Linked DNA regions of Homo sapiens. The protein of the gene in region 1 interacts with the protein of each later gene in a pairwise test. Each region holds a gene or a part of one and is shown on either strand. Other genes may lie near its edges.

What was found.
Region 2: the proteins of SLC12A4 (region 1) and MB21D2 interact in binary tests that used the Homo sapiens proteins (3 or more experiments, as listed by UniProt).

What each region holds. Positions count from the first base shown.
Region 1 is NC_000016.10:67,951,034-67,959,068, reverse strand, and holds part of SLC12A4 (solute carrier family 12 member 4), read left to right. Parts: intron 1-1,024; coding exon 1,025-1,171; intron 1,172-1,272; coding exon 1,273-1,327; intron 1,328-4,295; coding exon 4,296-4,426; intron 4,427-6,643; coding exon 6,644-6,885; intron 6,886-7,031; coding exon 7,032-7,246; intron 7,247-7,764; coding exon 7,765-7,929; intron 7,930-8,008; coding exon 8,009-8,035. UniProt on the Homo sapiens protein: Mediates electroneutral potassium-chloride cotransport when activated by cell swelling. May contribute to cell volume homeostasis in single cells. May be involved in the regulation of basolateral Cl(-) exit in NaCl absorbing epithelia.
Region 2 is NC_000003.12:192,795,522-192,803,098, reverse strand, and holds the end of MB21D2 (nucleotidyltransferase MB21D2), read left to right. Parts: intron 1-3,448; coding exon 3,449-4,713; 3' UTR 4,714-6,284; downstream 6,285-7,577. UniProt on the Homo sapiens protein: Probable nucleotidyltransferase that catalyzes the formation of cyclic dinucleotide second messenger in response to some unknown stimulus.

The DNA.
Region 1 (8,035 bases):
AAAGCACCACTCACTGGGTTCAGAAGCACCTTTTGGGTACCTGCAGGGCCTGCTGGTGATAGAACCATAAACAAGCCAAGCCTGCCCTAATATAGTAACAAAATATACAAGCACATTCTGTTACCATGACCTGTAGTGACCACTGTGATAGGGAGTATCAGATGCCAAAGGAATGTGAGAGGGAGAACCAACTCCACCTGAGGCAACCTTCGGACATCTTCCCGAGAGAGGTAACAGTTTCACTGAAGAGTTTGCCAGGCCGTGAGGCAGGGCCGACTCTCCCAGGCAGAGTCCAGCACATTCTCAGGTTCGCAGAATCTGAGGGACCCATGTGGTCAGGGGCTGGAGCTAATAAGAGAGGTGATGGGACACATCTGGTGGCCCAAGCCAAGGAGTTGGACGGCACACTGGATTACAAGACAACAGAGGGTTTTCAGCATGGGTGATGAGATTAGACTTGCTTTCAGAGACCTACTATAGCAGCAGAGTGGGCTGGAGTGTGGAGAGGTTGACAGGCTCAGGAGGGTACCACCCAGGTGCCCCAGGTTCAAGGGACTAAGGCTGGGACAAGGCAGGCTGATCTCAGGGCAGCAGGGAGACAGACTGGGTAGGAGTTAGTGTCTACCGGGACTAGAGTTGGGGGTTGAGAGGGAGGGCCAGGGATGACTTCTGGGACTTTGGCTTGGGTGACTTAGGGCCTGCTGGGTGAGAAGGTGGAGATCTGAGACAAACCTCTCTTTCTAGAAGTTTAACAGAAGAGAGGAAGGGAAGGAGGCAGTACCTTGAGAGAGAGTTAAGGTTCCAAAGTTCAATGTGGGTTTTTAAAAAGAATCAGGTTTTACACCTTCCCAGACTCAACTGTCTTCCTATATGAAAGTCAATAGAGACATCCTAGCTGTCACCCCTACTCTCTGTGTTCCCTGGGGCCCCACTGGGGGAGGGGGCCTGCTGAGTGACTAGGGCTGACTCTCCATGGTGCATCCCTCTGATGCTCTACTCGCCCCCTCCCTTTGTGTTCGCATAGGCACCCAGCATGGGCACCCTCATGGGGGTGTACCTGCCCTGCCTGCAGAATATCTTTGGGGTTATCCTCTTCCTGCGGCTGACCTGGATGGTGGGCACAGCAGGTGTGCTACAGGCCCTCCTCATCGTGCTTATCTGCTGCTGTTGTGTGAGTGTCCTGGCGTGGGAGGGTTGGGCTGGGCATGGGCCACGGCTGCCCCCACAGAGCCCACCCAGCTGAGCCGCTCACCCAGGCCCTCCTTCCCACAGACCCTGCTGACGGCCATCTCCATGAGTGCCATCGCCACCAACGGTGTGGTTCCAGGTCAGTGAGCGCCACCCAAGGCCTGGTGGAAGAGAAAAGGACCCAGTATCTGCCTTGACCTACCTGGGAACCCCCATAGCACACCCCTGCCCCAAGCAGTTCTGTAGTGGGCTCCCAATCCCTGATGCCAGGACAGTGCCCACGTAGGAGCTTTCCTGCTTGACAGAGTTGGAGAGTGCCATTGTGGTTTTTGTTAATATAAAAGCAATACCAAAAAAGAAAAAAAAAGGGCAATGTATGTTTACTGTAAGAGGGTTTGAAAGTGCAAAAAAAGGCCAGGCGCGGTGGCTCATGCCTGTAATCCCAGCACTTTGGGAGGCCGAGGTGGGTGGATCACAAGGGCAGGAGATCGAGACCATCCTGGCCAACACGGTGAAACCCCATCTCTACTAGAAATACAAAAAATTAGCCGGGCGTGGTGGCGGGCGCCTGTAGTCCCAGCTACTCGGGAGGCTGAGGCAGGAGAATGGCGTGAACCTGGCAGGCAGAGCTTGCGGTGAGCCGAGATTGCACCACTGCACTCCAGCCTGGGCGACAGAGCGAGACTCCGTCGCAAAAAAAAAAAAAAAAAATTAGCCAGGCATGGTGGTGGGCACTTGTAATTCCAGCTACTTGGGAGGCTGAGGCAGAGAATAGCTTGAACCCAGGAGGCAGAGGTTGCAGTAGTGAGCCAAGATCATGCCACTGCACTCCAGCTTGGGTGACAGAGCAAGACTCCATCTCCAAAATAAATAAATAAATAATAAAAAAGTGCAGAAAGGTATAGAATGGAAAATTAAAAGCACCCATAATCCCACCATCCTGAAATCACTACTGTTCGCCTTTTGGTATATATAAGTCTTAGGGTCTTATGAAGTATTGCACACGCACACTCTATTTACATAAATTGTATATATATATATATATATGTGTGTGTGTGTTTGTGTGTATTTCCCAAAAGTATATGTGTGTATATATACATATGCATTTATGTGTATATGTTTACGTGTGTATGTGTGTGTGTATGTTTCCCAAGTGTTGAAAACAGTTTTTTGATTTTGGTTTTTTGGGTTTTTTTTGAGACAGAGTCTCTCTCTGTCACCCAGGCTGGAGTGCAGTGGCATGATCTCAGCTCACTGCAACCTCCATTTCCCAGGTTTAAGCAATTCTAAGTGATTCTCATGCCTCAGCCTCCTGAGTAGCTGGGATTACAGGCGACCACCACATTTTTGTATTTTTAGTAGAGACGAGGTTTCACTATGTTGGCCAGGATGGTTTCGAACTCTTGACCTTAACTGATCCACCCACCTCTGCCTCTCAAAGTGCTGGGATTACGGGTGTGAGCCACTGCACCCTGCCGAAAATGGTTTTTTGAAAACAGGATTCTCCATGGTACACCATAACCTAATTAATGTGATTATTCTCCTGCCTGTGGGTTCCACTTTTTCACCATTGTATACATTGTTGTCATGAACATCCTTGAACATGAATCTTTGTTCATGCCCCAGCAGTTCCCTTAGGAGAGGGTCCTGGAGGTGGATTACGGCATGAAAAAGATTGACTTTTCGTTTATTTATTTATTTATTTATTTTGAGACGGAGTGTGTCGCCCAGGCTGGAGTGCAGTGGCACGATCTCAGCTCACTGCAATCTCCACCTCCCAGGTTCAAGCGATTCTCCTGCCTCAGCCGCCCGAGTAGCTGGGATTACAGACATGCACCACCATGCTCAGCTAATTTTTGTATTTTTAGTAGAGATGGGGTTTCACCATGTTGGCTAGGCTGGTCTCAAACTCCTGACCTCAAGTCATCTGCCTGCCTCAGCCTCCCAAAGTGCTGGGATTACAGGCGTGAGCCACTGTGCCCAGCTGACATTTTTTTTTTTTTGAGACGGAGTCTCACTCTGTCGCCAGGCTAGAGTGAAGTGGCATGATCTCGGCTCACTGCACCCTCTGCCTCCCAGGTTCAAACGATTCTCCTGCCTCAGCCTCCTGAGTAGCTGGGACTACAGGTGCACACCGCCACGCCTAGCTAATTTTGTATTTTAGTAGAGACGGGGTTTCATCGTGTTGCCCAGGCTGGTCACGAACTCCTGAGCTCAGGCAGTCCACCCATCTCAGCCTCCCAAAATGCTGGGATTACAGATGTGGGCCACTGCACCCGGCCTTTTTTTAAAAATGTATATTTTTATCATTTCCTTTTTTTAGTAGAGACGGGGTCTCGCCATGTTGCCCAGACTGGTCTGGAACTCCTGAGCTCAAGCAATCCACTCACCCCAGCCTCCCAAAATGCTGGGCTTACAGGCATGAGCCACCACGCCCAGCCAAGATTGACTCTTTGAAAGAATTTCTTGATCCCTGTTCCCAGATTTTCACCAGAGACATTGTCTCAGCAGCAGATACAACCAGCAACATGAGATGACTCTTGTCCCCCTGTGCTTGTCACCCTGGGGCCTGGTCATGACTCTCTGAGTCTTTTAAGGGTGTTAGACTTTGATAGAAGCACAGATTCAGGGCAGGGAGCCGTGGACACTCACCTGGTGGCAGGCACTGTGCGGGGCCTTAGGGCCAAAAGGCTGGATGAGACAGTCCCTCCTCTGGTCTGGAGGAGTCAGACTAACAAAGGCACAGGCCTCAGGAGGGTGAGGTGGGCTGAGATAGGACACACCCAGCCAGAGGAGGCTGTGGGCTGTGCACAGGGCATTGGAGGATGGTGGCCAGTCAGCCACTGCTGCAGACTAGAGCTGCTCCCGCAAAGCAGTTATTTCCACGGGCCGTGCTGGACATTCGAGTCAGATGGGGATAGGATCGAATGTCAGCCTAGATGCTTACCCACCGTGCAGCCCTGGGTAGGTCTCCCAGCCCCTCTACTCATCCACAAACAGGAAAAGCAGTCCCTGTCCCTCTGGGTGGTTGTGCAGGCTTGTCACAGGGAGACCCCTTGAAGAAGAACCAGCCTTGACCTGTGCACACTTTCATTTCTCTGCTGTAGCTGGGGGCTCCTATTTCATGATCTCTCGTTCACTGGGGCCAGAATTTGGAGGTGCTGTGGGCCTGTGCTTCTACCTGGGAACAACATTCGCAGCAGCCATGTACATCCTGGGGGCCATCGAGATCTTGCTGGTGAGTCAGGCTGAGCCCTGGCCAACTCTGGCCATGTCCAAACAGTCCCTTTGGACTCCAAACAGAAGGCTCAGGCTGTTCATCCCCACATGTCTGGCCAAGGCCTGGGTATTATAAAGTAGGAAGCCTCTTCGAGAGACAAAGACCTTTACTCAGGCTGGTCTTCCTTTCACCTCCATGCCAGTTTGGGCCAGGCAAGGCAGAGGCCTGGCTGCCTTCACCTCGGCCCTGGATGTTCCATCCACCTGGGCACCATTGCAGCCATGGCAAGGGTTCCAGGAACTGTTGTATTCAGCTCAGTGACAGATCTTGGTGGTGATGTAGGCTTCCTTCTGGGCTTGTGTGAGCTCTGGCCAGCTCTGTGTCCTCCGGGGCTCTGTGCCAGGGCACTTCAGATCCACCTTCTCCTTGTCCTTCAATCAGGGTAAGCAGCCACAGAACCCTGCTGGAGGTCGGCGCTCCCTCCACGAGCCCCATGGGAGCTCTGTCAGCCTCAGCTTCTCATTCCCCAGTGAACTGCCGTACCAGTGGGAGAAGAGGCAAGGAGCTGCGGGAGGCATGGGGTGACAGGTGCCCGCCCCTGGGGATCCAGAGGGTAGGAGATACCTGGAGGGACTGCCTGGCTGTTCTTGTCTCCAGGTCCTCTACCTGCAGCAGGACCCTGCACCTGAATCTTCTGATTTGGGGGGGCTTTGGCTTGTTTTCATTTCTCATATCCCTTCTACATTCATTATGTGGGATTTGTCCCTTCTCCTGTTTATCTATTCAGCCATGTCATTATATCTGTATGGACTTCTGGATATTTACTTTATTCTTTGGGTTGTAATCCAATACTATCATTATTTATTTTCTTGCTCAAACTGTTCCACTTTGGCTATTTAACGATTCAGGTTGGCATCTATGTTTGGATCCTTTTTGTTTGCTTGTTTTTAAGTAACAGCTTTATTAACATATAATTTACATACCATGCAATTCCCATACCAATTTATATACCATTGAAAGTGTACAATTCAATGTTTTATAGTATATTCACAGAGTTGCGCAGTCAATTCTAGAACATTTTCATCATCCCAAGAACCCCCATTAGCAGTCACTCTCCATTCCCCGCCAGCCCTGGCAACCAGGAATCTGCTTTCTGCCTTGGGATTTGCCTATTCTGGGCATCTCATATAAACAGAATCATATAATATGTGACCTTTTGTGACTGGCTTCTTTTAGGTACTCTTATTTTTTATTTTTATTTATTTATTTGTTTTGAGATGCAGTCTCACTCTGTCGCCCAAGCTGGAGTGCAGTGGCATGATCACAGCTCACTGCAATTTCCGCCTCCTGGGTTCAAGTGATTCTCCTGCCTCAGCCTCCCGAGTAGCTGGGATTACAGGCTCATGCCACCACGCCCAGCTAATTTTTTGTATTTTAGTAGAGATGAGGTTTCACCAAGTTGCCTGGGGTTGTCTCGAACTCTTGAGCTCAGGCAGTCGGCCTCCCAGAGTGCTGGGATTATAGGCATGAGCCATTGCGCCCGGCCTATTCATTTATTTTTTTGAGACAAGGTCTCACTCTGTCACCCAGACTGGAGTGCCGTGGTGTGGTCTCTACTCACTGCAACCACCACCTCCGAGACTGAAGTGATTCTCCTGCCTCAGCCTCCCGAGTAGCTGGGATTACAGGCGTGTGCCACTACTACCAGTTTTTGCACCACTAATTTTTGTATTTTTAGTAGAGATGAGGTTTCACCATGTTGGCCAGGCTGGTCTCAAACTCCTGACCTCAAGTGATCCACCGCCTCAGCCTCCCAAAGTGCTGGGATTACAGGCGTGAGCCACGGCGCTGACCTATTTTTTATTTTTTTTTGAGACGGAGTCCCCCTCTGTCACCCAGGCTGGAGTGCAGTGGTGCGATCTCTGCTCACTGCAACCTCTGCTTCCTGGATTCAGGCGATCCTCCTGCCTCAGCCTCCAGTTGCTGGGATTACAGGCACGTGCCACCACGCCCGGCTAATTTTTAGTAGAGATGGCGTTTCCCCATGTTGGCCAGGCTAGTCATGATCTCCTGACCTCAAGTGATCCCCCACCTCAGCCTCCCAAAGTGCTGGGATTACAGGCGTGAGCCACTGCGCCCGGCCTCTTTTAGGTACTCGTAAAAAGAAAACCAAAACGACAAGTTTCACTTTCCAAATAAGAAATAAAACCCTCCTTATCCATCTTCTTGTTTCAGACCTACATTGCCCCACCAGCTGCCATTTTTTACCCATCGGGTGCTCATGACACGTCGAATGCCACTTTGAACAATATGCGTGTGTATGGGACCATTTTCCTGACCTTCATGACCCTGGTGGTGTTTGTGGGGGTCAAGTATGTGAACAAATTTGCCTCGCTCTTCCTGGCCTGTGTGATCATCTCCATCCTCTCCATCTATGCTGGGGGCATAAAGTCTATATTTGACCCTCCCGTGTTTCCGTAAGTAACCCAGGAATTTATCTGGGCATTGCATGGACATCCCTCCCATGTAGCCAGCCTTTGATGCCCCAGATCCCAGAGACTGCAGGGTGGGCACAGGCAGGGGCTTTGACCTGAGCAGGTGCCGGTGCTTCTGTCCCTCACAGGGTATGCATGCTGGGCAACAGGACCCTGTCCCGGGACCAGTTTGACATCTGTGCCAAGACAGCTGTAGTGGACAATGAGACAGTGGCCACCCAGCTATGGAGTTTCTTCTGCCACAGCCCCAACCTTACGACCGACTCCTGTGACCCCTACTTCATGCTCAACAATGTGACCGAGATCCCTGGCATCCCCGGGGCAGCTGCTGGTGTGCTCCAGGGTGGGTCCTCCCTCCCGTCGTCTTGCTCTTGAGCCCACAGGCTGAGCAGGGGCACAGAGCACAGAGCTGTCCTTGTGTGGCCAGCTTGGGAACGGGGGCAGGACTGGCCGCCTTCCCAGCCCCCCAGTGTCCTCCCAGCCTGGCTCCTGGCAGCCGAGTTTGGAGTGAGTGGAGCCTGTCTGGCCAGCGTCCAAGGCCTGCAGCAGCCTGTCTTCCCCAGCCACCAGCCCCTGACACTGCCTGGGGATGTTCCCACAGGATCCATAAAGGCCTCTGTGGAAGGCGGGCAGTGGCGGGCTCTGGGTGACGGTGGTTCAGCCACCTTTGTCTGTCGACTTCTAGCTGGGCAGCTCCTTCTCTGTGGTCAGGGTAGCCCTGTGGCTGACGCTGCAGTCATTGGGCTGAAGCTGTTCCCTGAGTCCCCAAAGTTGCCCTGCATCTGCGCCTCTGGCTAGGCTGCCCCAAACTACCTGGGGTAGTGGGGGGCAGCTGTGGTGGTGACACAGCTACCCCTGCAGAAAACCTGTGGAGCGCCTACCTGGAGAAGGGTGACATCGTGGAGAAGCATGGGCTGCCCTCCGCAGATGCCCCGAGCCTGAAGGAGAGCCTGCCTCTGTACGTGGTCGCTGACATCGCCACATCCTTCACCGTGCTGGTCGGCATCTTCTTCCCTTCTGTAACAGGTGAGCCCTGCCTGCCTACCCACCCAGCCCTGTCCCCAATCCCGGGGAGCCCCTGAGGGAGTCTCATCTGTTTTTGGAGGCATCATGGCTGGCTCAAACCGCTCTG
Region 2 (7,577 bases), on another chromosome or scaffold:
ATCCAAGGCAAAATTCAGTGGCACTTTTGTAGACAAATTATCTCCAGGTTGTTAATGCACAAGTTACCCTGATTATATAGACGAGTCTTAGTTGGTGGGCTCAAAGCCAGTTTGCTTCTGTCCAGGACAAAAGCATATATAGGATTTTGAGTTAGTTACGCCTAAGAGGAGACAACAGTGTGTACTCAAATAACAATATCACTTTAATAGATTCAGATCTTATTTACTAACCACAACACAGCATTTCACAGTACTTCTCACGTATATTTATGGTATTCTGAATGGTAGAATGAAAGGATGTTTGAAATAATGAAGAGTAAACGATTTCATTATCAAATATATCTCACTGAAACTGACTGTTCCAACATGTGAGTTCATAAAATAATGAAAATGATTTTCACAACCTAATCTGGAATCTGAGAAATCAATTTTATCCTTTAAAGCAATAACCAAAACGTGGGATGGTAGTATTTCTTTACATGGCAAAGATGAGGTTAATATTAAAACATAATGACATTTGAGAAATGGATCTTTGTCTTGGCATTTATAAGAACTTTCAATCCGGATTAAGTTTGGCTTTAAAAAAGAAAACACTTTAAAAAGGAAAAACATATTTTCCATGCTGAAGACGGTTTTTGTTTGGGTAGTAGGTAGTATCTTCTGTTTTGCTTGGATAGTATTTAGTGTAGTATGTTGGGTTTCTCAGGACGCAGCCTCTGAAATGGAGTTAGGATGTTTATGAAGCAGCACCCTTGGGATCTACACCTGTCGAAGTGGGGAAGGAAGCAGGTTCAAGTAGGAGAAGCTGAGCTTCCCTGCAGGCGCATCATTCGCCACAGCCAACCCCACTGGGAACTCAGAGTTTGAGTGGCCCTTCAGAGTATCCTGAGCTGGGACACTCCCACACCGATCAGTTATTGGATGTGCACCTGCAACCCCCATCCCAGCCACAGGACCTGACCTGGCTAAGACAGCCCTTTGCAGCTGAGACAATCCTTAAGGGCTAGCATTTAAGCAGCTGGAAGTCCTTTATTGAAGAGGGACCTGGATGCCGTATCACAGTGCAGATAGTGTGAGAAACAGCCAAGAAGTCAGGTTTGTTGGATGTTCTTTCTGATGAATTGTTGACACTATAATGTTGGCTAACTTACGGTTTTAAAAAGAAAATGATAACTTGCCATATTTCTGTGTGTAAAGAATTGTACTAAATAAAAGACTTTTTCATGGTTAATGTGGTTTGGAAAATAGGATTTTAAAGAGCATATTTTAATAAATGAGCGTTAAATTTTAAAGTATAATTGTCTTAGTTCATTCAGGCTGTTATGTCAAAGTACCTAAACTGAGTAGCTTATAAACAGCAGGGATTTATTTCTCACCATTCTGGATGTCAAGAAAGCCAAGATCAAGGTGCCTGCAGATTCATTGTCTGGTGAGGGACAGCTTCCTGGTTCATAGATGGCTGTCTTCTCACTGTGTCCTCACATGGCAGAAGGGGTAAAGAAGCGCTCTGAGGTTTCTTTTATAAGGGTACCAATCCCACTCATGAGGGTTCCACTCTCACGCCTGATCACCTACCACAGGCCCCAGCTCCTAATACTATCACATTGAAAGTTGGGATTTCAACATGTGAGTGGGAGTCACGAACGTTCAGAGTATAACAATAATAGTAAGAAAACACAGGCATATGGTTTATTTGATTTGGGATTGTCCTATGAAGAGCAAACTATGAATTATAATGAATAATGGAATATTATAATACTTTGTGGTAGGTCTTGATCTTTGGGGAAACACTGTTAAATAAATCACAGGATGACGCTGGTAGTTTGTCAGAGAATCAAGCGTAAGCAAGTATATAATGAAGGAGGGAAAATGTATATGTTGTTTATGGAACAGTCATTTAAGTCTAGCCTTTAAGAATTTATGTTAATTCCATCTATTAATGCTATCTACCTATTAATTTCATGCATTTTTTCCCTTATCATTTAGTCATAGCTTGAATTATGTTCCTACTGCATGCACGGAGTCTTCTATACCTGCTTAATACATGAGACATGGTTCTCAAAAGGACCCACAATCTCTTAAAAAATCACATTTGTTAATATCATCGCCAATTTAATCAGAAACGTATACAATTCGAGAAGATGTCACGCTCATGGTGCGGAGTTTTCTAAATTTAATTTTCCCTTAGAAATTTCAGCTTTATCATTGGCAATAAATATTGTCAGTAGTTTCCTTGAAGCCAGGCTCATTTTGTTCATTTCTGAAGAAAATGTCTACCAAATACCCAAATCTAAATAGCCATAGTTTTCTGTTGTTCTTTAAAGTAAAAATGGCGTTCCATGAACAAAGAGGCTAGTTCAGCTCACAACTCAGTTACGTGAGTGCTTTTCCTGAAGACAGATTTCCTATTTCAGTATGAGGAAGACGGGTTTTATGGTTATTTCCATTTCATCACACAGACTATTAGGAAGATAGTCTTTCTAATGGCTCAGAGGTTGAGATTCAATAAAATAACTTATTTTTCTTCTCCATCAAGGATTTTCTTAAGTAAAACTGGGTTTTTTAAAAAAAAATTGCTAATGCATGTCAGTGGTAAAGAACCTACTGACTGCTAGTACAGTTTGGCATCAGTGTCTTTGCTGCTAAGGCACTGGCAATATTATCCTCCCTTGTTTCTGTGCCATTAGTACAATGGCAACACAGTAAAAAAGTCAGACAAGACTGGGCGTGGTAGCTCATGCCTGTAATCCCAGCACTTGGGGGAAGCCGAGGTAGGAGAATTGCTTGAGGCCAGGAATTTTAGACCAGCCTGGGCAACATAGCAAGACCCTGTCTCTTAAAAAAAAAGTCAAACAGTGTGTTAGTATTATTATAAAGAGAGTTATGAACTCATTACCCCTGAAAGTGTCTCCAGCCCACACTGAGAACCGCTGGTACAAAGAAGAGTGTAAGCGCAAAGAGCCTGGGGAAAGAAAACCGCTTAGGCAATAGATAAAAAAGGCCGAACTTCATATGATGGCAGGAGAGATGGAGAACAGGGAAGGAAGTGAGAAACCCTGGCAGAGGTTCCATGGAAAAGATTTGGCAGTAGAAGGGCAGCAAAGAGTTGAAATGTACTGAGGTTTTCAGTCTGCATAACTGAGTGGATGGCAATTCCATTAACTGAGATGATGACTGGGGGAAGAGGGGCCCTGTTTTATTATTGAAAACGATACTGCTTTTCACACTGAGAGAGAAAAATCTATCATAATTCTTGCATTTGGAAAAGGGTGGATTCTAGCACTAGTGAGAAAGTACTGTTGGCCAGGTCTCTGCAGCAGCCTGAGATTTGATTTAGTACTGATAATGAGTTTTGGTTCTTGGAACATCAGAGCATTCTGTTTCATGCATAAGACTCTTATGTCTGTGTTTCCTGTAATAGTGTTGTTTTTTTCTTCTTTATTTCCAGGAATGGTGCAAAAGCTGGACCAAAAGCTTCCAGTGGCTAATGAATACCTGTTGCTCTCTGGAGGTGTCCGGGAAGGCGTGGTGGACCTGGACTTAGATGAGCTTAATGTCTATGCCCGGGGTACTGACTATGATATGGACTTTACCCTCTTGGTGCCAGCCCTCAAGCTGCATGACCGTAATCAGCCTGTGACACTCGACATGCGCCACTCAGCCTTGTGCCACTCTTGGCTGAGCCTTCGGCTCTTTGATGAGGGGACAATCAGTAAATGGAAAGACTGCTGCACCATTGTAGATCACATCAATGGTGCCACCAACTACTTCTTCTCACCTACCAAAGTGGCTGACTGGTTCTATGACTCTATCAGCATTGTCCTATCAGAAATACAGAAGAAACCCCAGCGAGGGATGCCAAAGGTAGAAAAGGTGGAAAAAAATGGGACCATCATCTCCATCATTCTGGGTGTAGGGAGTAGTCGCATGTTGTATGATATTGTCCCTGTGGTATCTTTCAAAGGTTGGCCTGCAGTGGCCCAGAGCTGGCTCATGGAGAACCACTTTTGGGATGGGAAGATTACTGAGGAAGAGGTCATCAGTGGGTTTTACTTGGTGCCTGCTTGCTCCTACAAGGGTAAGAAGGACAATGAATGGCGGCTGTCCTTTGCCAGGAGCGAGGTGCAGTTGAAGAAGTGCATCTCCAGCAGCCTCATGCAGGCCTATCAGGCCTGCAAAGCCATCATCATTAAACTGCTGTCCCGGCCCAAGGCTATTAGCCCCTATCACCTGCGGAGCATGATGCTCTGGGCCTGCGACAGACTTCCTGCCAACTACTTGGCTCAAGAAGACTATGCAGCCCACTTTTTGCTGGGCCTCATCGATGACCTGCAACACTGTCTGGTCAACAAGATGTGCCCCAATTATTTCATCCCTCAGTGCAACATGCTGGAACATCTGTCTGAGGAGACAGTCATGCTTCACGCCCGGAAGCTGTCCTCTGTGCGCTCAGACCCGGCAGAGCACTTGCGCACCGCCATTGAGCATGTCAAGGCAGCCAACCGGCTGACACTGGAGCTCCAGAGGCGAGGTAGCACCACCAGCATCCCCTCTCCACAGTCTGACGGAGGGGACCCCAACCAGCCTGATGACCGTTTGGCAAAAAAACTGCAGCAGCTAGTGACTGAGAACCCGGGAAAGTCAATCTCTGTCTTTATCAATCCTGACGATGTCACAAGGCCCCATTTCAGAATTGATGACAAATTTTTCTGAGTGTTAGCTGACTTTTTTTTTTCCTGATTCTTAAACTCTGATAATGTGTCGTGTGGTTTGTGATGCTATCTTTCTGTTTTTTACATATCCAGCCTAGATTGGATTTGTTAAGAACAAATTTTAAGTTTCCTGGTTCTGCAGGATGGTGCAGGCTCTGAAACAGTATATTACTATTTCATATTCTGCCTCTGATTTCGTTGTTTACTTTTTGTAGTTATTGTCATGCTCTTTAGTTTGTTGGAGTTTTTTTTCTTTTTAAGGAGATCTTAAGCCATAGATGAAAATGCCCATGAATCCTCTTGCTTTTTTCTGTTTCATACTTGGTGCAAATTTGTTCATGGGTATGGGGAAACAAATCTCTTTCTGATGCTTAACGATTCTATCCTATTATTTTTATTATTTTGTTTTTGTCTTTTTTCTTATGAGCTTTCACCACTACTGATATTTGAGAATCATATGAACCTGGGAACTACTTGGCATGTTAGCTGGATTTATTTATTTTGGCCAGTGACCAGAGTAGTTTCCCCCCTTTTCCACCAAACAATGTAAACTTTGAAAGTGATAATACTACAAATTGTGTTTTGGAGCAACTTCATTGAATGTAATTGTCCTCAAATCAGAGAACACTGGGTGGTTTGAAGGGTGTCTTTGACAGTTTTCCAAGCAGAATTAAGGTTTCCAAATGTTAATTTTAGCATATGTAATTATTTGAAGCCTTATTTAAATCCTATTAAAGAACATACCATTATAATTATTATTTGCACTAATCTTTGCCATTGTCAGAATTGCAAAGTGTGTTTCAATATAAATTAACAACCACTCTCGAAATTCTATCATTTTTTCATTTTGCCCATTTCTATCAGTGAAATGATTCTTTGCATTTGCTTAGTTCTCCTTCAGTTGTGGGGTCCTGCTTTGCCCTCTTTGATATTCCTGGTTCCTGTCTTACTGAGAGAAGTTGTTAAAGCTTTATACATGTTGACCCCATCTAAAGCTGGGGAAAATATACACTTGATGAAGTAGGTGTCTTTGTATTTATTTCTTTTGGGGTCATAGAGGTAAGCTTTTTTGTAAAATCTCTACTCTTCCTGAGAGTTTTGAGAAAAACTGGCAGGAAGAACTTATAATCCCCAAATAGAAGATACCACGTCTGTTCAAAAGCAGGTATTGCTATAGAGCAGCACCCAGGAAATATCTGTGGGTGGCAGCCTTGGTATAGAGGTGTCCTGTCTTCATGAGTGAAGTTACTTGCCTGATTAGGTGCTGGAAGGTATTGGCTCCCTGTTTTGGTGTGGACTCATGGCAAGCTGGTGTTTAAGAGGTCAGGAGGCCTGCTGATCTTTCAAAGGACACCCATGATGTCTACTCATAGAAAGGGCAAGTAACGTGTTCATTTTGGTCTTGAATGTCCAAACTCAAGGGTTGGATTTTGGCCAATTGAAATCAGACATATGCGATCTTGGGTTTTTGCATGGAAATTAATGTAATGCTTATAAATGAAAAATGAAAACATTTCAACCATCTAAGTCAAACACAAAAATAATAAAAAAAGAAACATACTGGCCTTGAAATTTTGTTGTTGTTTGTAATCTGGGAATTATTTTCTTATTAGTATTATATTAGTATATTTATATATTAGTATATTTTCTTATTAGTATTATACTAACAGCAATTTTCAATAAATACAGCCATGGGCTTGCTAGTGTCTTTCGGACCAGTTGTCCATATAGTGAACAACCAACATTCAGTCTTCCTCTTTCCCCAGTTTTACTACTAATGTCTATCCGCCACATCATCCTTGTCCTTCTCAGGAAATGATTTCATCCCTAGTGCTGAAAACGCGTCATAATTGGAAAAGCTGATCTGCACAAACCATCTCCCTGGCCACAACATTAACAAGCGACACAGAATGTAAGCCGCTCCAGTCAGGGACACGCTCAGCGTTCCAAACTGGAATGCTGGGACAGAAACATACACTCTCCCTGGATATGGAGGAGAAAGCATTTGGATTCTTTTGCTACTGACAACTATCACACGATCTTTATTTATTTGTGTATTTATTTTTAATACACTTTAAGTTCTGGGTTACATGTGCAGAACGTGCAGTTTTGTTACATAGGTATATACGTGCCCTGGGTGATGTGCTGCACTCATCAACCCGTCACTAATGCTATCCCTCCCCCAGCCCCCTACCCCCCGACAGGCCCCGATGCGTGATGCTCCCCTCCCTGTGTCCGTGTGTTCTCATTGTTCAACTCCCACTTAAGAGTGAGAACATGTGGCGTTTGGTTTTCTGATCTTGTATCACGCAATCTTGACTAGAGCTAGCTTTAGGATGAAGCTGACGTTGGATGGCGTTATGGGAGCTGGGAATTAAAACATGACCTACCACACCCGCCACATCTGAGATCTCCACTAGACTTTCTAGTTAAATGAGTCAACACTTGGGTTATTTTAGCCAGTTTGAATTTGGCTCATCAAAATATTTAAACTGGTATACCAAACTACTTCAGTATATTTAAACTATTGCCGTTGTTGTGTGCCTCTTTTCTTTCTCGGGACAGATATCAGGGTTACCGTGTATTTTATCTAAGAGCTGGTTTATGCTATCTGATTTGATTCAAAAAAAATAGCCTCTATAATAATTATGCTTCTACTAAAGCCTGTTAAAAATGTATGATACTTTGACCATTACATTACACTTTGTAGATTAAAATAGTTGTAAACCATCAAAGTAGCAAGCATATTACAACAGCTGTTTCTTTAAGCTATAAACGACCATAACTATTCTCTGAACTAGTGTCTCAAATACACTTAGCAATATTTGCAATATTTTACGTGCCATGTTTTCAGACAAAACTCCA